4 linked regions of the Homo sapiens genome follow. The protein of the gene in region 1 purifies or fractionates together with the protein of each later gene. This does not show direct contact. Each region holds a gene or a part of one and is shown in the gene's direction. Other genes may lie near its edges.

Region 1 (7,204 bases):
TAGTTCTCTAAATTACTTCATGATGTCAATCCTGTACCTCCCCAGTAAGGTTATAAAAAGGTCTGGAAACCCCAATAAGGTTATTAAAAGGTCTGGAAACCCCAATGAGGTTATAAAAAGGTCTGGAAAAAAAATTGTATCTTACATTTCTTATGTGTTCTGTCAATTATAAACAAAAATGTATCTTATACCTAATAATAGTAATGATTATGACAAATACTTATGTTTCCTAGATGCCAGGCACTATTCTAAGCCCTTTACACTTATTAACTCATTTACCATAAGATAGGTGCTACTATTATCCACATTTTACAGGTGAGGACAATGAGGAATTTGTCAGATTTAAGATGGCCACAAATTCTCCGATGATTCTCCCATGGGGTAGTGGAGTCTAGGTCTCCTTCCCTCCTGCACAGGCTCTGCCTTAATCAGATTCTGTGCTACAAAGCTGTGCTCATTTCCCAGGCCCAGGCCTTTAAAGAGCTAACAGCTTCCACTTCCCATCTTTCAGAACAGTGGCTATGGAAGGCCTGAGCCACCTGTAAGATGCCCAGCTAGAGAGAACACATGGAGACAGAGAAGGGTTCAGCTGGCTCCCAGGAAAGCCATCCTGACCTCTCCAGGCTGGCCCCTCCTCCAACTGAATGCCACTGAGTGATCCCAGTTGACACCACATAGAATTGAAGAATTTCTCAGCTGACACCTGCCTGAATACCTAACCTGCAGAATTATGAGATAAAATAGTTTTTGAGTCACTAAATTTGGGGGTAGAGTGTTACACAGCAACAGAAAACCTGACCATATACAGAGAAGATGGTCACACAGCTAAAAATAGGTAAGTAATAAGGGACAGAGGTGGGATTCAGAGCCAGGGAATCTGACACCAAAGCCGCATTCATAACCACTGTTTCCTTTGATCGGAATCAGCTGCCTCTTCAGTCTACTGCCTATGCCTGATTGTCCAGGTAATCCCACAGACAAGCTTTGCATTAAGGAACTGCACAATTCAGGACTAAGATGTGCTACACAAGGTGTTATAGCGTGAGAGAAGGAGCAGAAGGTTCTCTTCCATCTTTGCGACTAACTCACCTAGTGACAAGCAGTAAAAATTTTCTGTGGTGAAGACATGGACTCCATCTGTCTTATTGAACAATGTATCTCTGGTGCCTAGCAGAGTGTCTTTGACATAATAGGCACTCAATACATATTTCTGGATGGATGAGACTCTGGGCCTCAGTTTTTCATCTATAAAAATGGAGAGGTCCCCTATTGGACTAGATGATCTCTTTTAGAGGTTTTTTCCTAGTTCTAAAAGCTACAAATCTATACAAGGAATGTGATGGTGGAAAGATGGTATGAATGGCGTCAAAAAATGAAAATATGGGGGGAAAAGAAACAAGAAAAAGTTTAGATCAATGTGAATGAAGAAATGCTTCTAAAGAAAACAACAGCCAGAATGGAATTTCAACCTGCAGAGAGGACTCCTAGAGCAAAGGCCCCTCAATTCTACCAACAGGTCAAATACTACTGGATAGAATTTGTGGATGTTTTTTCAGCAGTGCCATTAATAGATTACTTCTCCAAGGGCCCACAGTTCACGCACCTTAAAGTCAAGCTTACCTCAGAGGGCTCCTAAGGAGTCTGCCCATCATCATACTTTCCAAATGGCTTACTTGTAGCTCCTCACCTCCACCCTACTCATAAAAGCACTGGCTTGAAGCAACAAACCTGGAATCTTGTCTTAGCTTTATGCTGACTCTTATCATACTGGGAAGGCCAATTGGGTTAAACAGATACTGTGTGCCTAACATGTGCAACAGATTGTCGCGAGGATGGAATGCTGACAAACGGAACAGATGTGTTCCCTACTCTTCACAGGCTCTGTGTCTCAGTTTTCCATCATTCACTTAACTTTACACAATGCCCATTATGCGCTAGGCACTGAAGGTACGATGGCAAACACATCAGATACGGTCATCCATGTCTTCATGAAGCATCAGTCTAGTGGGAAAAACAAGTATCGTTGCACTGTACCAGAGTTATTTTTTATTTTTTTCCGAGACGCAGTCTTGCTCAGTTGACCAGGCTGGAGTGGAGTGGTGTGCTTTCGGCTCAGTGCAACCTCCACCTCCTGGGTTCAAGCGATTCTTCTGCCTCAGCCTCCCGAGTAGCTGGGATTACAGGCATGCACCACCACACCCAGCTAATTTTTGTATTTTTAGTAAGGACGAGGGGTGGGGGTCTCACCATGTTGGCCAGGCTGGTGTCAAACTCCTGACCTCAAATGATCCACTCGCCTCAGCCTCCCAAAGTGCTGGGATTACAGGCATGCGCCACCACACCCGCCTAATTTTGGTACTCTTAGTAGAGATGGGGTTTACAGGGTTTCACCATGTTGGCCAGGCTGGTCTCTATCTCTTGACCTCAGGAGCTGCCTGCCTCGGCCTCCCAAAGCGCTGGGATTACAGGCGTGAGCCACCGCACCCAGCCCTGTACCAAAGTTATTAAATGGAGGAAGCAGAAATTAATTTGGGAGGGAGGGTCAGGGAAAACTTCCTGGAAGACACATCTATGCTGAAATGTGAGTTAAGTTTGCCAGACTAAAAAAATGAGAGGGCTCACTTTCTTTGAGTATTCAGGAGGACAAACAAACAAACAACAACAACCAAACCCAAAAACAGTACGAGAGCACAAACAAGACTGAAGTACACATATGTGCCCTGAACACAAAAAACATCTTGAGCACCCTGCTTTTAAGCCTCCTGGCCATTCTGTCACTTCTGTTGGAAAGTATTTCCCTCCTTGTCCATTTCTGTGAATTCCTTCTGTTATGGTTAAACTGTTCCCCCAGCACTCCAGAATGTGATTGTATTTGGAGATCAGGCTTGTAAGAAGGTAATTAAGTTAAAATGAGGCCATTAAGGTGGGCCCTAATACAACCTGACTGACGTTCTCATAAAGAGGAAATCTGGATGCAAAGAGAGACGCCAGAGATGTGAAAACACAGAGGAAAGACCATGCGAGGACACAGCAAGAAAGCAGCCACGTGCAAGCCAAGGAGAAATGTCTCAGAAGAAACCAAACCTGAAGACACCTTGATCTTGGACTTCTAACCTCCAGAACTGTGAGAAAATAATAAATTTCTGTTGTTTAAGCCACCCAGTATTTTGTTTGCAGTCCTAGCAAACTAATACACCTTCTATTCCAGGCCCAACACTGCTCACTTTCAGAGTGAAACCTTATCACCCATATACACACACCTTGGGAGTGAAGGTTTCTCACAATACTCTGTGCATCCTCCACTCAACTTTCATTCATTCATTTAAGCAACAAACACCTAGTGACCACCACTGTGTGCCAGACCCTGTTTTAAGGGCTGAGAAGAGCTAACGTTTATTGAGTACTTACTAAGTGGCAGCCACTAGTCTAAGCGATTTACATGCACCAACTCATGAAATACGACAAGGTTCCAGGGACGCAGGTGCCGCTATGACATTCGCTTTACAGATGCGGGGCTGAGGCACAAAGAGGCCACACCGTAATGAAACTGAGCTAGGCTGTGGGCTCTGTCGTCTTAAGCGCTACTCTCAACTACAGCGTGGAAGGAAACAGAAGCCGAGAGATGGGCAGCGCGTAGCGGAGGCGGGCCGGGCTGGCTTCCAGCGGGCAAAGCCTGGAGATGAGAGGGCGCGGGTGGGGTTTCCAGGCCGAGGAAGCTGCACCAGGGAGAAGGCCCGGCTCCCAGGCCCGGAACCTGGCCGTCTGGGTCTCAGTCCGCGTCCCCTGTGATGCCCGGCACAGAGCAAATGCTCGCTGACTCTCGCAGGAGCCGCCAACCCCCCGGGTATCCTCGAGTGCCCAGAGACGGGAAGGAGCGGTGGGTCCATGCCCTTCTGGGCCACCTTCGGGCGCCCGGCCTCCCTTCCCTTCCGGGCCATTCCCACCAGCGCCAGCCCCGCACGCCTTCGCAAGGCCGGCCACCTTACCCTCGGAGGCCGCTCTCTGCCCCGCCGCCTACTCTTCACCTGCAGCAGCTGCCTTCAAGGCCACTCGCAGCGATCCGCTGGCCGCGGAATCATCACGACAACGCCCCCTTGGCTTGCCGGAACCGCCTTCCTGCTTCCGTTGGCGTCACTTCCACTGGGGGGGGCGTGGCCGCGGTGCGCAGGCGCGCTGGGTGGTTCAGAAGCGAATTCTGCACCGCGAAGCCTGAGAGGCAGGTAGCTGCGGCGCTGGGCTGGCGGCGGCGAGTCCACGTGCTCCCCGCGGCCGGTTGAAACCGTTGGCGGGCGCTGGCTGAGAGGTGAGGGGTGGTGGCCCAGAGGTCCGACCTGGGAGGCTGGGGCTCAGAGAGTGAGTAGGGGAGGGACGGGATTTCCACCGTCAGCCCCTCTGGGTTACGCATGGAGGAAGGAGTTCCATTCAGATCTCACTCCTGCTCTGGGGAAGTGGCAGGAGTCCTGGACTTAGGGTGACCAACTCGTTTTAGTTTTAAAACTTAAGGTCCGGCGTCCTGGGAACTCCCTCGGGCCTGGCCAAACCAGGACGATTGGTCACCGCCCGACTGGGCTTCAGGCTTGCTGCATGTTGGAGACAGGGCTCTTCTCTGAGCCTTGGGAGATCAGTCCCTAAAGAGGAGGCCTTAGGATGTAGCGGTCCAGAGCACATACTTAGGATCAGAATAACTACTGCGTGTGAATCTGGGTTGCCACTACCTGGATGTGGGATGACCTGGTGTAAGTTTTTTAACCTCTTTGCGCCTCACTTTCCTCATCTGTCATAACATATAGAATCTAACTCGGAGAACTGTGATGAGGATTACATGAGTAGAAATGTGTTAACCTCCTATGAGAGGGCTTGGGTGCTCCATGAATGTTAGGATTCTCTGAAGCACCTACCTCTGAGGAGAGAGGGAGGAGGATGAGGTGGGGTCTGTATTTGCAACCCTGATTTCTAGCAGAGAGGGCCCACTTGGGACTTACTCACACTGTGCCCGAGGCTCCCAGGGTCTAGCATAGTGCCTGACACATGGTAGTTACTCGAGTGAAGGGATGGTGTTTAAAACAGTGCTGGTGATGCCGTGGGTGGGGTAGGAGGCAGAGAGAAATGGCTTCTGTGCCTCAGTTTGCTCATCTGTTTAGTGGAGATAGGTGCACCTACTTCCCAGGGCTTTTGCAAGGAACAAGGGAGAGATTCTCTCCTTGTGAATGTCACCCATTGTAACCCTTGTCAGCCTCATACACAAAGGTTTAGGCAGGATGGTGGACAGAGTATGTTTGTCTGTCCTTCTCTTGCACCATACCCATGGTTTCTCAGAATGCTACCCGTGGAAGGGGCTTGAGTCTTGTCAAGTTGGCCTGACTTCTTGTTTCACAGATGAGATAACTTGAAGTTTATAGAGGCAGTGGCATGCTCAGGGTCACAGTGTTCAGTGGGGGATATCCTGGGGTTGCCAGCTAGGCCCCTCAGGTGGGCTGTTTGAGTGGTAGTGGTGGTAATGATGTGTAGGTCAGTGTCTGCATGTGCATGCAAGAATATTTTAAGAATAGTCAAGGCCAAGCGCAGTGGCCCGTGCCTGTCATCCGAGCACTTTGGGAGGCCGAGGAGGGTGGATCACCTGAGGTCAAGAGTTCACAACCAGCCTGGCCAACATGGTGAAACTCCGTCTCTACTAAAAATACAAAAATTAGCCGGGCATGGTGGCATGTGCCTGTAATCCCAGCTACTGGGGAGGCTGAGGCCGGAGAATCACTTGAACCTGGGAGGCAAAGGCTGCAGTGAGCCGAGATTGCGCCATTGTACTCCAGCCTGGGCAACAGAATGAGACTCCGTCTCAAAAAAAAAAAAAAAAAGAAAAAAAATTGAATAAGTAATACAAAAATATAGAGGGAAGAAGATTTAAAAAAAATCATTCCAATCTCAGAACCAAACCTAAGGGCATGTTATCAGGGAACTTGGTAAAGTAGGCAGCCATGGGGTGAGGAGCCAGAGAAGGTTGGAGTGAATTTATGAACATAAATGGGTGGGTTGATGGTCATATTTAAAGGAGCATGGGTTTAGGAGGGGGCTGGGTATAATAGCATTGATGTGCAAATTAGTAGGTCACAGAGAAACCTTTCTACAATTGGGCAGGGATGAAGCTTTCATATCTGGTGTCTTATTTAACTTTCCACCCAATGCTTTGAGTTAGGTATTAGATCCATTTTACAGATAAACAGATTCTGGGAAGTTAAGGTGCTTTGAGGTCATTTAGTTTTTAATGACTTTTTTGACATTAGCAGATGTAGGCTCCAGCTCAGATCCTCTACACCTGAGTCAGGGCCCTGTCCAACAAAAGCTGGCAACCATCTTGTTAAGAGAAGACTAACAAGTTCCCAGCCCCTTAGTGACCACTGGCTGCTGCCCCTCAGCTAGCTTTGCTGTCCAGACCCTGACAGCCTCTCCTGTGACATGGGTGGTCTCCTTGCCCACTGCACAGAGGTTTTATAATTAAGACTTAGGGTTCTAATATTTATACATGGAAAGTCATCTTATAGAGACCTTAATTTTTTTTCTCTTTGGATGAGGACCTCAAGGTCCCAGGTGCTGAGTAACCACCAAGCAAACGGCTAGGACATGGCAGGTCAAGATGGAGGCAGGGTGGGAGCCTGGGCTTGCTGCCTGGTCTTTCAGGCCACCTCTGCCACTTACTGTGACTTCGGGCAGTTCACTTACCCTCCTGAGCCTTAGGTTTTCTCTCCAGATGGAGGTAGTATGATCATAGCAGTCTTAGTGGTATTGGGGGCAGTTGTGTTCATAAATGGGACACGGCTTTGTAGAGAGCTAATGATCATGTGTTCTATGGTGCAGACCCCGTCATCTTTTTCATGGGTATGGCATGTGATGAGAGCTCAGTAAACTGACCATACAGACAGACGAAGACGCAGCCAGGAGCACACGCAGAGGACCTGCGTGAGGGCCCCAGGTGTATCTGGGTGGATAGGATAGTGTCAGCATTCAGGAAATGTCTGCCGAATTGAGTTAAAGTGACTGAGCAAGAACCGAAGTATGCTCTCAACCAGTCCAAGAACACTGCCTTCTGCCTGCCTTTCTCTTTTAACATGCGCATGTGGCCAGAAGGAAAGCATGTAGAATCTCTCTGGCTGCGCTGGGACTGGACATTGGGCAGAGGGAGTTGGGGAGCCAGGGAAGGAAAAGAGGACTC
Region 2 (7,533 bases), on another chromosome or scaffold:
GGAAATAATATGTTTTTAATTAAAAATAATAGCAGGAAAGGCACTTAGCTTACTATTAGTCTAGAAGTTGGTGGCAGGGCTGGAATTGAAATTTTAAGCCTCCTCCCTCTGGAAAACGGAAATTGCTAAAGCATTATGGTTTCCTTGTGCAGACCTTCAAAATCAATTATTAAACTTGTGACAATGACGTCACATCATCAAAGTGAATTTTTTTCACTGTTTTTAACCTGAGGGTCAGACATCACAACCACCTGCTTAACCAGCTTCCAGAAACACTAAGGATTCAGATGTCTGTTGCAACATGAAACTTGTCTTTGCTTATCTCGAGTATCTTTTTGGGTACAGCACAGAATGCTAATCTTAAGAAATTCTGCCTGCAGATATTTAGAATCATTTGGAAATTGATCATACAAGCATAAGTACATGCATTCCAAATACGTGTATGATTATTATCACAAATCTTCTCTAGGAAAAGAGATCGCAAGATTTCCATTAAACCTAAAATTGTTCCTTTATGGAACAGCAGAATGCAAAGAATGTTTTTAACAGTGTGTCAATAGAATGACTCGTACTCAACCCATAGAAACACCCCTTATCAGCAGCTCTGACGTGAGCAAGGGCAGAAGTTCATTAGCACAGGTGCCTGTCATGATCCACGCACAGGAACGGAATTCTCACAGAAGAAACACAACCTGTCTGCATATGCAAACAGTGCTTTAGTGAAACACAGGTGCTGGGGGATTATTGACAGCATATGACCCCAAGTGCAATCCATCATGTACCTCCATTTAAATACCAAACAATTCATGACCAGCCTGGACAACATGGCGAAATCTCCCCTCTACTAAAAAATACAAAAAGTAGCCAGGTGTGGTGGCATGTACCTGTAGTCCCAGCTACTCGGGAGGCTGAGGCACTTAAATCTGAGAATTGCTTAAACCTGGGAGGTGGAGGTTGCAGTGAGCCAAGATCACACCATTGCACTCCAGCCTAGGCGACAGAGTGAGACCCTGTCTCATAAATAAATAAACAAACAAACAAATACCAAACAAGGTAATAACTCTACAGAGGTCAAGAACAAAGCCACTCTCGGCTGGCAGTGCAAAAGGAGAGTGGCTTTGGAGTTCCATGCGCCCTGAACGCACCTCATTGTGTCTCTCCAGCTGTGTGACGGTGAGCAAGCACTCAACCACCTCAAAGCCAGCACTCTTGTCTGTGAAACAGAGACAATCACACCCACCTCACTATGCTGTCCCGAGAAGAAAGCAAGTGACCTGGCACATGGTGGAGGCTCCCTGCATTGCAGTTGTTAAGGTTCAACGATAATTTAATGAATAGAACAAAAGTTTAGCAAATATTATTGTAACTAAGCAGCTAATAAGAACATAGATAATACATAATGCATAATTAATAATACACAATCTCTTTGCTCACTTATTAATGCCTGTAGAATAGGGTTAGTGAAAAGCTAAAATAATTCACATAAAGTATTTTTAACATGCCTGGTAGATAGTAAGTGAGCAAAGAGTGAAGAAACAGAGGCTTGGGGAAGCTGAGACATTTTCCCAGGATCACAGCGGGTGGAGCTGTATCTCAGAAATGAAGCTCACAGTCTTAACTCACTGTGTAATTCTGCAGAGAATGTCAGGCTGCACCTTTGGCCCGGAGGGTGGCTCTCATGCCATTGCTGCCTTCCACCTAAGGAGGTGTTTCCTTAGACCTCCCTGTTGACAGCTTTCCTCTTTATGGCACAGTGTGGAGTTCTGACCCACTTCAGGGTTGTGCAGAGGGGGTCTGACAGTACTGTAATTCAGTAGGACTACTTGAGTATTGCAGAAGCTTGATTCCAACCGCTACAGCCCCTACATCAGGAACTTACTCAAGCCAACATTCAATCAACGGAGTTCCACAGTCACTGTGAATGCTCTTGGCAGTGCTGCCTGAGGTGAGGGATGGCAAAAAAGTAAGACACAGTTCCTGTCCACGAAGAGCTGGCTACTTCTTTTGGAAACAAGATGTACACAAGGAAGCATCTAGGTACAAAGCAGCATGTGACTCGTTCTGAATGAGTTCCTGTGGGGATCCAGGGAAGTGGCCGACGGGCCCAATGGAGCACTCATAGGACCCTCTAAGACCGGATGCCTACTGATGGCTAATCCCCATGTAAAGGCTCCTTTCAGGCAGGAAGTTCAGTTCTGCAAAATGTACCTTTCATCCATCAGAATTACAGCAACGAGAAGGTAAAACAGAAAAGACCAAACCCACAAAATAAAAAGGTCTGAAAAACAAAGCTTTTTACTGAGAAGTGCCTCGCAGTCAGAAGCTTTGCAGAGTACCCTTGAGAGCATCCTTTACTACAGCTGAGAAGTACCTTTCTGTCACAAGGTACACACTCAGAGGCGTCCTGGCAGCTGGAACCTGCTAATGCAGTCAGGAACTGGCAATGTGCCTCGTACTGCAGGCAGCATTTGCGACACTCCTCAGAAAAGGCCTTTAGAGTTTGGCTTCCCCAGAGAAGCCCAGAAGTGTATGATAAAGAAGCTTGCTCCTAGTGGTGTAGAATACATACTTGCCCCCAAGAAGCTATACTCTGCCACAAAATCACAAGAACAGGCAAGGATGTTGATTCTCATCAACACGCACATGGTGTAAGATGCTTGGTACCTTATCATTGTTATAGCTCTGGGCCCATGATGAGTCATTATGGTTGTGCATTCACAGACATGCCTTTGTAGCTGAACAAGTTAAAAGCAGGTGGCTCATGCCTGTAATCTCTGCACTTTGGGAGGCCAAGGTGGGTGGATCACTTGAGGTCAGGGTTTGAGACCAGCCTGGCTAATATGGTAAAACCCTGTCTCTACTAAAAATACAAAATATTAGCCGGGAGTGGTGGCAGGTGCCTGTAATCCCAGCTACTTGGGAGGCTGAGGCAGGAGAATGGCTTGAACCCTGGAGGCGGAGGTTGCAGTGAGCTGAGATGGCGCCACTGCGCTCCAGCCTGCGCGACAGAGTGAGATTCCGTCTCAAAAAAAAAAAAAAAATTAAAGAAAGGATGTTTGCCCATCTGAAGCAAAGTATTGACTGGACTTATCTAAATACCGGATTACAAGAAAAAGAGGAACTGGCTATATCAGAGTGAGAGAAAGTGGGAGAGGTTGAGGAAACATACAAGAACCTAAAAGAAAGGGCAATAAGTATGAGCATAGCTTTGCTAATCTCGGAAATGGTGGCCAGAACTGTCCTGTGGTTTAGCAAATGATCATAGCCAGCAAATCCTAATTACCCTAGAAGCTTCCTTTAGAAGTGCCACAAAGATGTAGGAGGTATGCTTATCCGCCTTGTGACACAAAAATGGAAGCATAGTTAATAGATGAGAAAAGCATGACCCAGAATGATTTTCAATATTGGAATGCTGGGAATTTATGAGAGGTATTTTCGCGTAAGAATAATAGGACTTGTTTAAAAGGATTGGAGAGTGGGGGGCATCCCAGATGCGTGAGAAGCAGTATAGCTAATGGTTAGAAGCAGGTTTGCTGGAGCCAGGCTGCCTGGGTTCAAAGCCCACCTCTGCTGCCTGTTAGCTTGTCAGCTGCACAACCACGGGGTGCTTTCGAGCCTTGTGTGCCTTTGTTTCCCCATGCACTTCATGAGGCTGTTGCAGAAATTAAACGAGTTAATATATAGTCAGCAGCTCTGAACACTGCTTGACTGAGTCAGCCCTACCTAACGTTTAATTTAAGGGATGTGGCCCTGGGTTCCCAAAGGGAGCGGCCACTCTATTCACAAACATAAAAGCAGTAAAGGCTCCATCCTCATCAACCTTCTCCTCAGTTGGACCCCACAGGACTGTCTCTCGCAACTGTTCCCTGGGCTCTCCTAAGGCACTGCGCGGAACCAGCTGCACCTCTTTTGCCTTAGATCAGGCTTTCCCTTCTCCGCCCGTTTTGGGATTTAACAAGCACGAGAAAGCAGGGCTGCAGGGAAGCCGCGAGGGCCTCCTCACCACGGCCCGGGATCAAGTCCCACGCGCGAGGCCGGGGTAGGGGCGTCATCTGCTCCACACCCAGAGGCTGGGCACGCCCCGCACGCGCGGCTTCCTCCTCCTTTGCGGGGCTCGCCGCGACCCAGGACCCCCAGACTCCCGGATCCCCTAGACCCTCTGGACTCCTAAGCCCCGCAACTCCCAAATCCCAAGACCCCGGACCCTCCAACCCTGGCCCAGGGCGCGTGGCTGGGGGCCTGAACCCGCTCCAGAAACCCGCAGGGCAGTCTGTCGGAAACCCCCGCTTTACTCAGCAGGAATTTAGTCTCCGCGCTCCCCCTAAAACCCGGGCGTCCTCTCCTCTGTACCCTCGCTCCTGAGGCCCTCACACGCCCTCCGTGGCTGACCTCCAAGCCGGGCGGGTGCGCTGTGCGACGCGGAAAGCGCCGTAGAGCACGCAGAACACGATTGGCTGAGCTCCCGGAAGTGACGTACCTCAACCGCCCGACAGTGGAAGTCCCACCTGCGCCCGACGGCGGAAGTTCCGGGAGTGCCAAGTACCCGCGTGCATACGGCTGCCGGCATGGCACATTACAACTTCAAGAAAATTACGGTGGTGCCGTCCGCCAAGGTAGGCGGCCCCGGGAGGGCCACTGCAACTTTCGCGTTCTCCTCAGCTGGGTCCCCGGGGAGGGTCCGGGCCTGTAGCCGTGGGAGAGCGGTCGCCTTCCGCTCGCCCATCCCCCGCTCCTGGGCCTGACCGTCTGGCCGCGTACTCGGGATCATTTCCCCTCCCCCAGCAGAATCCGGGGTCCACCAGAGATCGGATCCCCCAGAGACCGGGGTCCACCTAAGACCGTGGTCCACCCAAAGACTGAGGGCCCCCAGAGATGGGGGTACACCCAGAGTTGGGTTCCCTGGAGGGGCCCCGGGTGACGATGTGGGCGAGTGGAGGGGGACCCCGACATGTGAGGGAGGAAGCGTTCCGTGGTCCGTGATGAGCCTTCGGATTCTGGGTTTGGCGTAGCCCCCTCCCCTCTCAGGAATCCTGGGTTCGTTGTTCTCGTGATTTAACGTTTCATAATTTTTAAGTCATTCTCTTTCACTGTTAGATTTGGGAATACCTGTTCCTTTTCAGACCATAGTAGGCCCAGACTAAATTTTTACAGCGTTGGTTGGTGTGGCAAGAATGAGTCAACAAGTGTTGAGTATTAGGACTTTTTTTTTTTTTTTTTTTTTTTGAGACATAGTTTTTCGCTCTTGTTTCCCAGGCTGGAGCGCAGTCTCGGCTCACTGCAACCTCCACCTCCCGCGTTCAAGCGATTCTCCTGCTTCAGCCTCCCGAGTAACAGGGATTACAGTCGTGCACCACCACACCCAGCTAATTTTCGTATTTTTAGTAGAGACGGGGTTTCACCACGTTGGCCAAGCTGGCCTCGAACTCCTGATCCCGGGTGATCCTCCCGCCCCGGCCTCCCAAAGTGCTGGAATTACAGGCGTGAGCCACTGCGCCCGGCCCTAGTATTAGGACTTTTAAGAAGTCACGTTTTTATGTAGTGAACATTCGATTTGGGTCGCAATTACACAGACATTGACGGGCAACTGGAGCCTCCCAGGGACTCCTGCACGAGAGGGAGTTACTGAAGTCCCTGCAGAGTGACTGTTTTCCCCTCGTCAGTGCCTCCTTTTCTTCAGGTCTCAAGGACGGGATGAGCTTGCCTTGGAAAGCTTTGTGGGAGTCTCGTATTTTACCTTCATAGCAAAAGTTGTTTCCCCACTTCTCTCCACCATTTCTTATTTCTTCCTGACAGTTGTTCTGGCACATCTCTTGATCGATTGTAGTATTTTCTTTCTTTCTTTTTGAGATGGAGTCTCGCTCTGTTGGCCAGGTTGGAGCGCAGTGGTGTGATCCTGACTGCAGCCACCGCCTCCCAGGTTCAAGTGATTTTCCTGCCTCAGCCTCCCGAGTAGCTGGGACTACAGGCATGCGCCACCAGGCCTGGCTAATTTTTGTATTTTCAGTAGAAGTGGAGTTTCACCATGTTGGCCAGACTGGTCTTGAACTCCTAATCTCAAGTGATTCACTTGCCTCAGCCTCCCAAAGTGTTAGGATTACAGGCATGAGCTACTGTGCCCAGCCAGATTGTAGTATTTTCGAGTGCAGGAGTCATGTCTTATTTGTATTTTTGGTCAACCATCTCTCAGGTTTGTTGAAGGAATTTGCTCTTTGGATTATATGAACTTTGTTCATGTTATTGACTTATGTGGAGAACTTTAGAATATATTATACACCATCCGTCTTCTGTTCTGTGGAGTGAGATTTATATTTTTAGAGAACAGATGACTTATCTAAAAACTGGGTGATGGTAATTGTTTGGTGATTGGAAGTAAAAAAAAAAAATCACATCGGGAAAGTGTGGTATTCAGTTCATTCTAGAAGATGTTGAGTGAGTGCCTGTCCTGTGCATCGGGTACTGTGTTACAAAAATGCATTAGATAAAATACCTGCCTCTTTGGAAGTCATTTTCAAGAGAGGTAAGTCGAGGCCGGGTGCGGTGGCTCTCGCCTGTAATCCCAGCACTTTGGGAGGCTGAGGCGGGCAAATCACGAGGTCAGGAGATCGAGACCATCCTGGCTAACACGGTGAAACCCCGTCTCTACTAAAAATACAGAAAAATTAGCCAGGCGTGGTGGCGGGCGCCTGTAGTCCCAGCTGCTGGGGAGGCTGAGGCAGGAGAATGGTGTGAACTGAACCCAGGAGGCAGAGCTTGCAGTGAACCGAGATCGCGCCACTGCACTCCAGCCTGGGCAACAGAGCAAGACTCCATCTCAAAAAAAAAAAAAAAAAAAAGTGGGGTAAGTCATATCTCGTATGACCATACTAGAAATAAAACATTGTTATCATGGAGGACACACATGGATTGGGAGAGGAGAAGAGTGTGGTTAGCTGTGGTAAGTTGGAGAGTCAGGGGGAACCTTATGAAGTAGGTAACCTTTGACTTGGTCCCCCTTCAGGATGTGCGAACGGCATTAGGTGCAGAAGAACGTAGAGAAGATCTTGTGTGGGCCCAGAGGGGAGACCGTGTGTGCCCCTCATAGTACTTGGCAGACTGTTGTGACCACCCGTTTACTTGTCTCACTTGTAGGCCCAGAGGGGAGACAGTGTGTGCCCCTTATAGTACTTGGCAGACTGTTGTGACCACCCATTTACTTGTCTCACTTGTAGGCCCAGAGGGGAGACTGGGCGTGCCCCTCATAGTACAATACTTGGCAGACTGTGTTGTGCCCACCTGTTTACTTCTGTCACTGGACCCTGAATTCCGTGAAGGAAGGGACAGTATCTTGTTCATTATCCTCAGCACCCAAGTATCCCTAACAACCTTTGTATGAAATAATATTGAGTTAATCAAATTGTTGAATTAATCAAAGTGTTCAAGAAAAAAGGTCAAGTAATATTGTGTGGCTAGATACATTGGATTTAGGAATCCTGGGGATCGGATCCTTATTAAAGAGAAGTGCTGACTCTTTGCACTGGGTAACTCATGCAAAAA
Region 3 (7,023 bases), on another chromosome or scaffold:
GAACATTTAATTACTTAGATATACAACTTAAATTAGAAAAAATGTAGAAAGGGGATAGAAATCATATAGTAGAGAAGACTCAATGAAGCTAAAACTTGGATCTTGCAAAAGACTAAAATAAAAATAGTCAAGTCTCTGGTAAAGGTTCTCAGGAACAAAAGAGGGCACAAATAAGACAATATTAAGGATGAAGAAAGTACACAGTCACAGATAACTGATTTAAAAGAACGTGAACAGGCCAGGCGCAGTGGCTCATGCCTGTAATCCCAGCACTTTGGGAGGCCGAGGCAGGCAGTTCACCTGAGGTCAGGAGTTCGAGATCAGCCTGGCCAACATGGTGAAACCCCGTCTCTACTAAAAATACAAAAATTAGCCGTATTAGGCGTGGTGGCAGGCACCTGTAGTCCCAGCTACTCAGGAGGGTGAGGCAGGAGAATCATTTGAATCTGGGTGGCATAGGTTGCAGTGAGTCAAGATGGTGCCATTGCACTCCAGCCTGGGCAACAAAAGTGAAACTCTGTCTCAAAAAAAAAAAAAAAAAAAGAAGAAAAATATTTAAAAATACAGAAACAAACATTTTTCACAGAAGGGGAAACATATAGCTAATAACAACATGAAATCTAACCTCATTAGTAATCTGGGATATGCAAATAATCATCTCTGTGAAATACTTTATGACACCCAGTAGATTGTCAAAAGTATTGGTCAAGATATTTGTCAGTGGCAGTACTATGGAAGACAACTTTGGCACTAGCTGGTCAAGTTAACATTTATTTACCTACAACTGAGTAATTCACTGCTTAGAACAGCAGTTCTTGGCTGGACGTGGTTGCTCATGCCTATAGTCCCAGCACTTTGGGAGGCCAAGGCAGGTGGATCACCTGAGGTCAGGAGTTTGAGACCAGCCTGGCCAACATGGTGAGACCCCGTCTCTACTAAAAATATAAAAATTAACCAGTTGTGGTGGTGTGCGCCTGTAATCCCAGCTACTCGGAAGGCTGAGGCAGGAGAATCACGTGAGCCCAGGAGGCAGAGGTTGCAGTGAGTCGATACCGTGCCACTGCACTCCAGCCTGGGTGACAGAGTGAGACCCTGTCTCAAAAAAAAAAAACAGCATTTCTCAAAGTATGGTCTGCAGACCCCTGGGATTACGGGTGGGAGCCACTGTGCCTGATGTGTTCCTGTTTTATTAAAGATTAAATTCTGAAGCAATAAAAGTTACAGGAGCTTGTCCAAGGTTGCACAGCTAACAAGTAGAAGGGTCAGGATGTGAACCCAGACAATCTGTCTCTAGGGCCCACACTTTTAACTACTAAGCTTATACCAATTGCTTTAATACCACCTGTTTAGCAAGCTTATTGTAATTAAAAGATACTGGGGCTGGGGGGTGGGTAGAGATGTCAGGTGCTATTGAGAGCTCCCAGAGAGCTGTATTCCCCCCAGAGTAGGGGAGGGTGAAGGGTGGGTAGGGATAGAAGTCTAGTGAAAAGGAAATGCTGTCCTCTCAAGAGTTTTTGGCAGTGTGTATCTTTTCTTCTAGAGACCATGGCGAGCCCAGGGAAAGACAATTATCGAATGAAGAGCTATAAGAACAATGCTCTAAACCCTGAAGAAATGAGACGAAGAAGAGAGGAAGAGGGCATTCAGCTCCGGAAGCAGAAGCGAGAGCAACAAGTGAGTTAATGGGAGTATTCTCAAACATACTATTCTGGGAAACAAGCCCCTATGGTTGGCCTCCACCATGCACCCTGACTTGCCCTGTAGAAAAGTAGCTTACTAGGTGGGCATGGTGGCTCATGTCTGTAATCCCAGCACTTTGGGAGGCCAAGGCAGGCAGATCACCTGAGGTCAGGAGTTCAAGACCAGCCTGGCCAACATGGTGAAACTTCATTTTCTCTACTAAAAATACAGAAATTAGCCGGACGTGGTGGCATGCGCCTGCAATCTCAGCTACTTGGGAGGCTGAAGCAGGAGAATTGCTTGAACCTGGGAGGCGGAGGTTGCAGGAGCTGAGTTCGTGCCATTGCACTCCAGCCTGGGCAACAAGAGTGAAACTCCATCTCAAAAAAAAAAAAAAAAAAAAAAAGAAAAGTAGCTTACTTACTGAGTGAGCTACTCATCCAGTTTCCTTTGTTGTAAATAAATGTTGGGAGCTTTGAGAAAGAGAAAACTGACCTTATCCCCTTTTCACAAGTTAGACCAACTTAGACATCATTTATGTCTTTACTGTAACATTCTAGTTCTAGTTCCTTGTTACCTTTTCTTTTCTTTTTTTTTTCTTTTTTTTTTTTTGAGACGGAGTCTGATTCTGTCACCCAGGCTGGAGTGCAATGGCACGATCTCTGCTCACTGCAACCTCTGCCTCCTGGGTTCAAGCAATTCTCCTGCCTTAGCCTCCCGAGTAGCTAGGATTACGGGCATGTACCACCACGTCCAATTAACTTTGTATATTTTTGGTAGAGACTGGGTTTCACCATGTTGGCCAGACTGGTCTCGAACTCCTGACCTTGTGATCTGCCCAGATCTGCCCGCCTCAGCCTCCCATAGTGCTGGGATTACAGGCGTAAGCCACCACGCCCAGCCTGAGACTATAATAATGCCTCACCATCTGCACTCCTACGCCACCCCGCCAACAGATTCAGTCACCTGATTATTATTATTTATTTATTTATTTATTTATTTATTTATTTATTTATTGAGACAAGGTCTCACTCTGTCACCCAGGCTGGAGTGCAGTGAGTGCAGTGAGTGACATGATCTCAGCTCACTGCAGCCTCAAGCTCCCGGGCTCAAGTGATCCTTCTTCCTCAGCCTCCTGCATAGCTGGACTATAGGCATGTACCACCACGCCCGGCTAATTTTTGTGGATTTTTTTTTTTTTTTTTTTTTTGTACAGACAGGGTTTTGCCATGTTGCCCAGGCTGGTCTTGAACTCCTGAGCTGAAGTGATCCACCTGCCCTGGCCTCCCAGAGTGCTGGGATTGCAGGCATGCGCCACTGTGCCTGGCCAACCTAACCTGATTTTGCCCACCCTTTTGCTATACTATCATTCCTTTTTTTCTTTTTTTTTTTTAAGACAGGATCTTGCCCTGTTGCCCAGGTTGGAGTACAGTGGCGTGATCTTGGCCCACTGCTGCCTCTGCCTCCAAGTCCTTGAATATCTTTTCCATGTTAGTAATCAATAGTCTCCTCTTCTCTTTGTGGAATACATTCCAGGACCCACAGTGGATGCCTGAAACTGCAGATATTACTGAACCTTACATATACTATGTTTTTTTTCATGTTTTCATCTTTTTACTTAAAGGAAGCACTTTACAGCTTCTCTTTGGCACATTTGAATTGCCAGCATCACTACTCTTGCACTTTGTGGCTATTACTAAGTAAAATAAGGGTTACTTGAACACAAGCAATTGCCACCTGATAACCAAGTTGGTTATTAAGTGACTAACTGGCAGCAGCGTATACAGCATGGAATGGATGCACTGGACAAAGGATGTTCACATCCTGGGCCAGACAGAACAAGATAGCGTGAAACTTCAACACTACTCAGAATGGCATGCAATTTAAAACTTATGAATTGTTCATTTCTGGAATTTTCTGTGTAATATTTTCAGACCACGGTTGACTGGATAACTAAAATAATAGAAAGCAAAACTGAATAAGGGGAGACTAATGTATAAAGCTTGGCCTCACTTCTCAGCTACTCTAGTATATCCTTGTCAGTTATGCCATAATTTAACATTGGATTGTTCTTTGTTTTCTTTGGTTCAGAGAGTACTCTTAACCACTGTCTCTTTACTTTCAGCTTTTTAAACGGAGAAATGTGGAGCTGATTAATGAAGAAGCTGCCATGTTCGATAGTCTTCTCATGGACTCTTATGTGAGCTCTACCACTGGGGTAAGGCCCCTGCATGTGCCTCAGGCTGACCTGGAAAACACCTGCTTCTAAGGACAGAAATTGGGCCGTTCACATCATCTACCAGCTTTGCCAGTAACCATGACAAGTTCTTTCCTCTGTGGACCCTTTCGTCAGCTTTAGGAGTCAACAAAGATTCAACTTTGTTAGATATATCTGAGGAAACATTTAAGAGAAGCCATCAGTTGCCTCAGAATTAGGAATCACTTTTCAAATGTCCCAACTTGAAGCACCTATAGATTAAACAGACCCCTTCTCCTGAGCCTATTATGCCATCCTCTTGCCCTCAGTTTTTTAGAAAACAGGATGCCAAGCAGTATTATGTGCTCACATCTGGCTCTAATGTTGGTTTGCAAAGTCCTAAACTTGTTTTATGTTCTAGGAGAGTGTGATCACAAGAGAGATGGTGGAGATGCTCTTTTCTGATGATTCTGACCTGCAGTTAGCAACCACACAGAAATTCCGGAAACTGCTCTCCAAAGGTACAAAGCCTGGCCCTTGTCAGAGAGGCCTTATATGATTTAGCCTCTTTTCTCTTCACTGATGTCATCAACTTACACGTGCCCTCACTCATTCTGCTCTAGCCCTACTGACCTTGGTGTTGCTTGTACAAGATAGACACATTGCTACCTTCACACTGGATACTTCCTCTGCCTGATGTCCTCTATTCCCAGATATCTTTGTAGCAACTCCCTTACTCCTATGATTAAATCCCACCTTCAACAGTTTTATCTTTTTACCTTGCCCTACATATTCTCCTCCTCTCCCCCCATTATATTTATCTTCTAACATAATAAAATGACTCTTCCCACTAGGATATAAACTCTCTGAGGGCAGAGACTTTTGTTTTTGTTCCCTCCTGTGTCCTCTGTACCTAGAACTGTGTGGCACACCATAGGTACTTAATAAAAAAATTTAATGTATGATTGGAAAAATACCTCTTGTTTCAGTATATCAAATAGTCTTCCCAAGAAGAGAGTACTGGTCTTTCTTGAAAGGGAAATGTGCAGACCATGGTTGTTCATCCCTTAGGTGGTTCTCTCTCCCACACCTTTCTTTGCTTACATTTAGTAAGCCAAAGATGAACATTCTTAAATTAGGATTGGCTTTACTCTTTAACATTCCAGCTGTATTATACAGTTCAAAGACGAGTAGATATTGTTAAAACCACCTTACCAGAAGGGAGTTTGGGAATGTTTGTAAGGGTGGTCAGAAGTGTCTAAGAAGGATTGCAAGCTGACCCCCATGAAGGGATCAGCAAAAGCTTCTCCTGTGTTTTTATTTTCCCTTCTCCCTTATCCAGAGCCTAGTCCTCCAATAGATGAAGTTATCAACACTCCAAGAGTGGTGGATCGGTTCGTGGAGTTTCTGAAGAGGAATGAGAATTGTACATTACAGGTGAGGCCTGAAGGGAAGGGGTTTGTTTTGTCTTTTAATTTTTGGGGGATACATAGTAGGTATATATATTTATGGGATACATGAGATGTTTTGACACAGGCATGCAATTTGAAATAAGCAAATCATGGAGAATGGGGTATCCATTTCCTCAAGCATTTATCCTTTAAGTTACAAACAATCCAATTATACACTTTAAGTTATTTTAAATTGTGTAGTTATTATTGACTATAGTCACCCTATTGTGTTACCAAATAGTAGGTCTTATTAATTCTTTCTGGGTTTTTTTGTACCCATTACTTATCCCCATCCCACCCCCAGTCCCCCACTACTGGGAAGGGGTTATTAGATGAAAGCCCTACTTCCAAGAAATTGCAGTGGGATACTTCTATTGACATATCTCTCAGGAAGTTCAAAAGTAATGTTAGGAAACATTCAGGAGAAACCATCAGTTCCCTCACAGCCAGAATCTCTTCCTTAAAACAATTTCAAAGGAAAGGCACCAGACTATGATAGACTGATCATTCAGTTATAAATCAGAGGCTATAGTCCACTACCTGTGTGACCTGAGGCAAATTGTTTAGCCTCTCTGGGTCTCTTGTTTCAGAGATGGGTGATGGGTCAATCCATTGGAACTTGCCAGAACTCAGCTGAAAGGGACTTTGAGAGACCCATTTCATTCTAATCCTCATTTCAGAAATGAAGAAAGTGAAGCTCAGGAAATAAAAGAGTGACCTGGCAAAGGATGCATGGGTGTTGTGGTAGTGCAGGACTAAACCTGGGACCCTGGAAGCCCAATGTCTTATTCTCATCTATATCACATCACTGCATCTTCCCACTCTCTAAAGACGGGAGGGGAAAGGCTTGTATTTTATGTGTGTGTGTTTTAAATTCGTGGGCAAGAGGCTTGCTTGTGTTTTGTGAGGTTTTGTTTTGGTTTTTTAAATTCATGGGCAGGAGGCTTACTGTTCTGAGCCAGCTGATAGGCATGGCTGCTCAGTCTGAAATGACCTTTCAATCATTGCTTAATCTCACTTTCAGTTTGAAGCTGCCTGGGCTCTAACGAATATTGCCTCTGGAACCTCTCAGCAGACCAAAATTGTCATTGAAGCAGGGGCTGTCCCCATTTTTATAGAGCTGCTTAATTCAGACTTTGAGGATGTTCAGGAACAGGTAATGCTTAGATTTGGTGTGATTCTTTATAGTACCTGTGGTATAATAAAAAATATATTTGGTCTTTGTCCTGGTTCTTGGCACAGTGTTAAAACTCTTGGAATTTCCTGAGTGATAGGGGTGTCAAGTACAGATGGCCCCTGGGACTTGCAACTGGTATCTCAAGTTGGGGCAGTCTTGTGGGACTAACCTGCGGACTCTGCATTAACTCTAGGTGTTAGAGTCAGAATTGAATTAAATCGTTGGACACATGGTTGGTATCAGAGAATGGGTGGTTGATGTGGAAAAAACTCTATACATTTGTTGTTGGAAGTGCCATTGGAAAAAAGACACCACAGTACCCATATCTGAGTACCCACAAATCATGGAGATAAAGATACAACTTCCATTTCTCCCATTGAATTCTTACTAGTTGGATAGAATTGGAGAGTGGTAGTGGGCTCTTTTATAGACTTGGTCCAAGGCAGCTACAAGAGTGCAACTTTCGCCAGGCGCGGTGGCTCACGCCTATAATCCCAGCACTTTGGGAGGCCGAGGTG
Region 4 (7,023 bases), on another chromosome or scaffold:
CAAGGAAATGTAAATATGATGGAGTTTTGAAAGAGATAGTAGCACTTATTTTGAATGGCTAAGCTCTCCTCTGTTCTCTACCACAGAGCCAGCTCTAGTGGCACTTTTCAAATAAAAAAAAGTTTGCCAAGTACAGATTGCAAATCTAGATTAAATTTAAAATTTAATTACAAGCTCACGCCTGTAATCCCAGCACTTTGGGAGGCCCAGGCGGGCAGATCACCTGAGGTCAAGAGTTCGAGACCAGCCTGGCCAACACAGTGAAACCCGTCTCTACTAAAAATACAAAAATTAGCCCGACACCGTGGCGCACGCCTGTAATCCCAGCTACTCGGGAGGCTGAGGCAGGAAAATCATTTGAACCCGGGAGGTGGAGGTTGCAGTGAACTGAGATCATGCCACTGCACTCCAGCCTGGGTGACAGACTCTGGCTCAAAAAAAAAAAAAAAAAAGCACACCCAGGTAAATTTTGTTGTGGGTACTCTATCACAATTTTTTTTTTTTAAGAATTGCTTACCCAGCTTTTCCCAAGAATAATTTTTTTTTTTTTTGAGACAGAGTCGCACTCTGTCTCCCAGGCTGGAGTGCGGTGGCTCGATCTCGGCTCACTGCAAGCTCTGCCTCCTGAGTTCACGCCATTCTCCTGCCTCAGCCTCCCGAGTAGCTGGGACTACAGGCGCCCGCCATCACGCCCGGCTAATATTTTGTATTTTTAGTAGAGACGGGGTTTTGCCGTGTTAGCCAGGATGGTCTCGATGTCCTGACCTTGTGATCCACCCGCCTCAGCCTCCCAAAGTGCTGGGATTACAGGCATGAGCCACCGCGCCCGGCCTGAACATGCATTTTTCAAAGGTAGTGCTTGTGCTCCTGGTTGCCAAGTCCCAGCACAAGCTTGTTTAGCCTATCTGTTGCCAAATGCTTCAGTAAGGGTTTCTCTTACTAGCAGATGTAAATGGCCAAGTCAGGCAGTGTTGTTTGGCTGCAGACTTATGTTTAGTTTCTCTTCCTGCCTAGTTTGACTATAAGGCTGTTGCTGATCGACTCCTGGAAATGACCAGCAGGAAGAACACGCCCCACTTCAACAGGAAGCGCCTCTCCAAACTCATCAAGAAGTCAGTAACTGGGGAGAGGGTTCTGACATCATCATTCCTTTAGTTCTCATCTCCTGGTGTGGGACAAGCCATCTGCATGCTTATCTTTTTTCTTTCTTCTTTTTTTGTCCTTTAATGCTTTTGTGTATAGCAATGTAATAGACACATGTAAACTGAAAAGCTTAATGGAAACAGCAGTCCCACCCCTCAGGTTCCATTCTTCCAGTGCAGCCATACTCATCTCTTAGCTGCTTTAGAATGATGTGAAGTCTATTCATGTCTAAAATGAACCAACCAGAAACTGATGTGAATCTGCTATTTAGGTGTCTTCTGCTGGTGTGCTGCTGAGATAGATAGGGTTAATTCTTTACCTCTCCCCTCCCTCCCATATGGCTATGCCAAAAGTGTTAGTTAATTCAGCTGTCAGTGTTGATGTCACTCTGACCATAGTGACATGATGACCTGGAATTCATGGAGGGCCTCGTGTGGCTTGCTGTCATTGGTGACAACAACTGTCTGATCACACTCTAGGAGCCGGGCACTGCTCTGAGCACTTTGTATACATTCAAGTATTCCATGTTAAGCCCCCAGAAAGTAGCTCCTGTAGTTTTGCCCATTTCCCAGCTGGTTCTTAGGGCACAGGATGGTCCTAGCTTGCCTGAGGTCCCTGCCATCCAGTGTCTCCTCCCCCATGCACCTCCCCACACTGCGCTTCGATGCGTCTTGTTTGTTCTAATGCACAAAAATTGTGTGAAGCAAAACATGGCTTCGCCTTTCTCCACTGGAGAATTGAATATGAGAGAGATCTAAGCTATTTCTGCCTTCAGAAACAAAAATTGAATTTCTTAGTTTGATTTGGGTGTGCCAAGATGCATCTTTGGCCCGCCGTGTCCTTGCTGGTATTGATGGTAACCGAGGGCGGCACTGGCCTTGAGCTTTTTGGCTTTTGTATTGCACCACCCTTCCCTCACAGAATTTCCTGTCTAGCCTCCCCTCCTGGAGGAGAACGTGAATTAACAACTATTTAACTATGGCTTGTATTTTAAAAATCAAATACATATGTCTACAGAAGACAGAAGGGATTTCTTTATGAACATTTGTTATTTTTTTATTTTTTATTTTTTATTTTTTTATTTTTAGATTCCAAGACCTTTCTGAAGGTGAGGCGCGCCAAGAATCATCATTCATGGTGTTTTTCGTGAATATGGACCCCACTGGGGGCGTTGATGCCAAACGCTGAGAAACAAGATTGAAAGAACTTTACTGAAAACCTCTGATAAGAAATAATAGTCCCTAGCCCAGGCAAAATAGCAAGGCCACATCTCTACTAAAAATGAAAAAATTAGCCAGGCGTGGTGGCGTGATCCTGTAGTCCCAGTCACTTGGGAGTCTAAGAGGGGAGGATCGCTTGAGCCCAGGAGGTCCAGGATGCAGTAAGTTGTAATCACACCACTGCACTCCAGCCTGGGTGACACAACAAGACCCCAACTTTTAAGAAAGACAGACCAGCCCTTACCTAGTCATACCGCAGTACAGCGTGGGAAGTGATGCAAGCCTAGGGCTCCCTGCAGCCTGCCCACCTTCCTATCCTGGGCTCTCCCTAACCACCAAAGCAAGAGGGCAGACTGCTCTCATGTGTGGGTACTGCGATGTTTTGGTTTGGTTTTTATTATTTTAACTAGATGGATTTTCAATGGCCTAGGAAGGTTTTAATTGGATACTCTATGAAGGTAAAAAATGTAATTTCTCAGGATCCCTTTCATTTGCTCTTATGGTCAATGGTCCCCCCGGGAAAGGCTGATGCTGTAAGCTTTGTTACATTTGGACAAGTCAGTGAAGTTACCCCATACCCGTCATTCACTAGGGACACTTGGAATTGGGAAAGGCACCAGCAAGCTGGTTGGAATGCAGAGACTGCATTAGCCAAGCGTCCGGGGTCCAGCCATGGAGGGTGTCACCGAGGGCTTGTGATCCCTTGCCTTGCCTTGGTTGAGAAATCCACAAAGCTTTTTTAAGTCTGTAATTCCTGTGTCAGCAGCGCTCAGGTTTGGGTGGGAGAAACGGTGAGGAACGATGATGATGAGGCAGAAATTGGGAGGGGTGCTGCTCTTAGGCCCCTGGGGCAGAGTCTTGAGCGCCTGGGGAAGCTAACAGTGTGTCACTCTGGCATCTAGGAAGCAGTATATCTCAACTCAGTTTTGCGGAGGACATTTCTGCTGATGAAGATGACCAAATCCTCAGTCAAGGAAAGCATAAGAAGAAAGGAAATAAACTTTTAGAGAAAACTAACTTGGAAAAGGAGAAAGGTAAGCTGTAAAGCTAAAAAGAAGGGCACGACTCAGCCCTTGGGGAGCGGCATGCACCATGGAGGCCTCGGAGACTTGAGCTCGTGCCGTCATAAAGCATTAGCAGAGCCCAAAGCTTCAGTCTTTAATGGCTGAGAGGTAAAGGCGGTTTTCCAAGTGTTGTGCTGTTTTTGGTGGAGCCGCGTCCCCACCTCACCCCGCTCACGTCCGCCTGCTCTCCAGGGCACCTCTGCAGGGAAGCAGGAGCTGCAGGGAGCACTGGGGGGCGGCTGTTTGATGACCACTCGAGATCTATGGTTTTTACCCTTGAGCCCTAAAATTAGTGGAAATGGGACTATTTCAGTTCCATATGTGTTTATAAACGGACAGAAGGAAGGCTTCCAGTCACAGTTGGGGATGGAGGAAGTGGGACCAGACGACAAAGGTAGTGGGCGCACCAAGTACCTCAAGGGAGACAGGAACTTTCCTCGTGGTAGAATGTCAGGAAATTGCGTCCGCCAGTCATACTGTCTGAGAATCGCCAGCAGGACTCTGGCCCAGCTGGCACTGGGTGCTTGTTGATGGGTTTCTGTCTTTTTAGGAAGCAGAGTCTTTTGTGTAGAGGAAGAGGACAGTGAAAGCAGTCTTCAAAAGAGAAGAAGGAAGAAGAAGAAGAAGCACCACCTGCAGCCTGAAAATCCAGGCCCAGGGGGTGCAGCCCCATCCCTGGAACAGAACCGGGGCAGGGAGCCCGAGGCCTCTGGGCTGAAAGCCCTGAAGGCACGTGTGGCCGAGCCAGGTGCAGAGGCCACGTCCAGCACTGGGGAGGAGAGTGGCTCCGAGCATCCTCCAGCCGTCCCCATGCACAATAAAAGGAAACGGCCACGGAAGAAGAGCCCGAGGGCCCACAGGGAAATGTTGGAATCAGCAGTGTTGCCCCCAGAGGACATGTCTCAGAGTGGCCCGAGTGGCAGTCATCCTCAGGGACCTAGAGGGTCCCCGACAGGTGGAGCCCAACTCCTAAAAAGGAAGCGGAAACTTGGAGTTGTGCCCGTCAATGGCAGTGGCCTGTCCACGCCGGCCTGGCCTCCATTGCAGCAGGAAGGCCCTCCCACAGGCCCCGCAGAGGGGGCGAACAGCCACACCACGCTGCCCCAGCGCAGGAGGCTGCAGAAAAAGAAGGCAGGGCCCGGCAGCCTGGAGCTCTGTGGCCTGCCCAGCCAGAAAACAGCAAGTTTGAAAAAGAGGAAGAAAATGAGAGTGATGTCAAACTTGGTGGAGCACAACGGGGTGCTGGAGTCCGAAGCTGGGCAACCCCAGGCTCTGGTAAGGTGGGAGCACCCACAGGCCAGCTCGCCACAGAGGCACTCACTCGCGTCCATGGGGCTCCACTGCCTCCTGAGAGGAAGGGTGGGGGCTGGCGGCCAGGCCTCTGGACTCAGCAGCAGTTAGAATAGGGTGTGTTCATAACAGCCTTCACTAAGGAGGAAATCACAGGTGACCAGTACTTCGGTCCTCCTCATCGGCCACCTTCACTCCCTTAGGCCACATGCTTGGGTTCGGGAGGGCCCACTCCAAGCTGGGAAAGTTATCCCTTGGGCCAGGCACTCCTGCCCCAGGCGTGTTCAGGCCAGTCTAGGCCTCTGTCAAAGGCAGGTCTGGTTTTCTTCATCAGCGCATGGCCAGTCCAGGCCCCTTTGGCAAAAGAGGAAGCCCAAAATTCTCTTGCTTCACTCACCTTCTTTTCTATATTCTTTTCTTTTCTTAGCTTCCCCCCTACCCCCCAGCTCAAGAAACTTCACTAGCAGGACCACTTATCTTCTTAATGGAAAGACTTTCCTTCCACTTTGATTTCTAGAGCCAGATATAAATGAGGAACCAAGCTGTTGATCTGGTCTTGGGTCTGGCTGTGTCACCCAGGCTGGAGTGCGGTGGCACAATCTCGGCTCACTGCAACCTCCACCTCCCAGGTTCAAGCGATTCTTCTGCCTCTGCCTCCCAAGTAGCTGGAATTACAGATACACATCACCATGCCCAGCTAATTTTTGTTATTTTTGTAGAGACAGAGTTTTGCCTTGTTGCCCAGGCTGGGCTCAAGCAGTCCACCTGCCTCGGCCTCCCAAAGTGCGGGATTACAGGCGAGAGCCCCCGCGCCTGGCCCTGATCCGCTTTTCACACCACCTCTGGGCGCCCTGGGCTTCCAGGCCAGGGCCGGCAAACGTAGTGTCACTGCAACAGAGCCACATCCACTTGTATGTGCAGGTCTGTGGCCACTTTCATGCTGCAGCGGCAGAGGGGAGTGGTAGAGACAGAGACCTGCGGTCTGTAAAGCAGAAAATAACTCTGCCCTTCACAGAGTTTGCGCACCTTGGTCACCTCTTGGTTTGCACACACCGCTTTGCGGAGATTATGACATCTCTTGTTTAAGTGGACATGTGTGGACCTGGTGAAGCGCTGGTTTGGGGCTAAGAGTGTCTGCAAGTGGCTAGTGAGTGAGTTTATGGTCAGGAAAGCCTTACCCAGGGGCAGCAGTGCACTGAGCTGGACGGCAGGAGGCCCATTTCTAGCCTCGAGTCTCTCCTACCTCACAGTGCCGCCATCTCCTCCCTGGACTGCAGCCTGCCCCTCGTACCCTCAGCGCTGCTCCCTCACTAAGAGGGCCAGAGACATTGCCTTTCTTGCTGTCGTCTCAGGCCCCTGGCAGCCTATTGTAAAGAGGATGGGGTGTTGCTCAATAAGTCCCAGGGTCAAGGGAAGCTTTCCCCTGCCATCTGTCATGGCACAGGGAAGGCGCACAGGAGAAGCTCCTCGGGCTTCCCTGCCCTCCAGGCGGCACACTTGAACCTGCCGGAGCCACCCGTGTGTCGGCAGCGGCACTGGGCTGCCCACACCTCTGAGAGCCAAGTACGAGACCCGGTCTCTCTCTGGGTGGCTGTCAGTTGCTGCACACGCAATGAGTGTCCTGGGCCTGCCTGTGAGGGACCCACAGCCCCACATGGGCATCACTGTCCTCCACACCAGACTGCCAGCGCAGTGACGATTCAGCTACAAATGGGAGAGTCGATCTTATTAACAGATCGGCTTTGAAAGGCCAAAATCCCCATTTTGAAGATGAAGATAAAAGTGGGTCCTTACTCTGACGAGGCGTTTTCATCGCCCCTCTTGGCATGGTGCCATGATAGCGGTCGTGTTGTGCGTGAAGCCTGAGCTCTGCCGAATGGAAGGGCTGTCTGCAAGTGCGGTGCGGAAGACCGCGGGCCGTCGGGTGGGCTGGATCTGCCTGGGGCTCTGCCTTCCCCTCCTGTGTGTGTGGGCAGCACAGGAGGCTCTGTCGTCTGACCCCTCCTCCGCTTCTCACCCCTCGCTCACGTAGGGAAGCAGTGGGACTTGCAGTTCCCTGAAGAAGCAGAAGCTGAGGGCAGAGAGCGACTTTGTGAAGTTTGACACCCCCTTCTTACCAAAGCCCCTGTTCTTCAGAAGAGCCAAGAGCAGCACTGCCACCCACCCTCCAGGCCCTGCCGTCCAGGTACGCACCCTCCCCAGAGTGGCACAGCACATTTCACCACAAGGGCACAGATGGGCTTGAGCTGACAGTGCTTCCCATGCCGGGCCTGGAGCCCCACTGTGGCCCTCTGAGCCTGTCCACA

What was found.
Region 2: the proteins of LYAR (region 1) and GTPBP4 purify together in Homo sapiens (co-immunoprecipitation; 3 studies listed by BioGRID and IntAct, with this or other methods). This does not show direct contact.
Region 3: the proteins of LYAR (region 1) and KPNA6 purify together in Homo sapiens (co-immunoprecipitation; 2 studies listed by BioGRID and IntAct, with this or other methods). This does not show direct contact.
Region 4: the proteins of LYAR (region 1) and RRP1B purify together in Homo sapiens (co-immunoprecipitation; 3 studies listed by IntAct, with this or other methods). This does not show direct contact.

The regions. Positions count from the first base shown.
Region 1 is NC_000004.12:4,287,135-4,294,338, reverse strand, and holds the start of LYAR (cell growth-regulating nucleolar protein), read left to right. Parts: upstream 1-4,184; 5' UTR 4,185-4,303; exon of another isoform or gene 4,304-4,736; intron 4,737-7,204. UniProt on the Homo sapiens protein: Plays a role in the maintenance of the appropriate processing of 47S/45S pre-rRNA to 32S/30S pre-rRNAs and their subsequent processing to produce 18S and 28S rRNAs. Also acts at the level of transcription regulation.
Region 2 is NC_000010.11:983,915-991,447, forward strand, and holds the start of GTPBP4 (GTP-binding protein 4), read left to right. Parts: upstream 1-4,519; 5' UTR 4,520-4,565; coding exon 4,566-4,613; exon of another isoform or gene 4,614-5,034; intron 5,035-7,533. UniProt on the Homo sapiens protein: Involved in the biogenesis of the 60S ribosomal subunit. Acts as a TP53 repressor, preventing TP53 stabilization and cell cycle arrest.
Region 3 is NC_000001.11:32,153,048-32,160,070, forward strand, and holds part of KPNA6 (importin subunit alpha-7), read left to right. Parts: intron 1-1,540; coding exon 1,541-1,674; intron 1,675-3,805; coding exon 3,806-3,898; intron 3,899-4,298; coding exon 4,299-4,398; intron 4,399-5,219; coding exon 5,220-5,314; intron 5,315-6,352; coding exon 6,353-6,484; intron 6,485-7,023. UniProt on the Homo sapiens protein: Functions in nuclear protein import as an adapter protein for nuclear receptor KPNB1. Binds specifically and directly to substrates containing either a simple or bipartite NLS motif.
Region 4 is NC_000021.9:43,683,539-43,690,561, forward strand, and holds part of RRP1B (ribosomal RNA processing protein 1 homolog B), read left to right. Parts: intron 1-1,014; coding exon 1,015-1,112; intron 1,113-2,231; coding exon 2,232-2,251; intron 2,252-3,265; coding exon 3,266-3,397; intron 3,398-3,977; coding exon 3,978-4,702; intron 4,703-6,749; coding exon 6,750-6,902; intron 6,903-7,023. UniProt on the Homo sapiens protein: Positively regulates DNA damage-induced apoptosis by acting as a transcriptional coactivator of proapoptotic target genes of the transcriptional activator E2F1.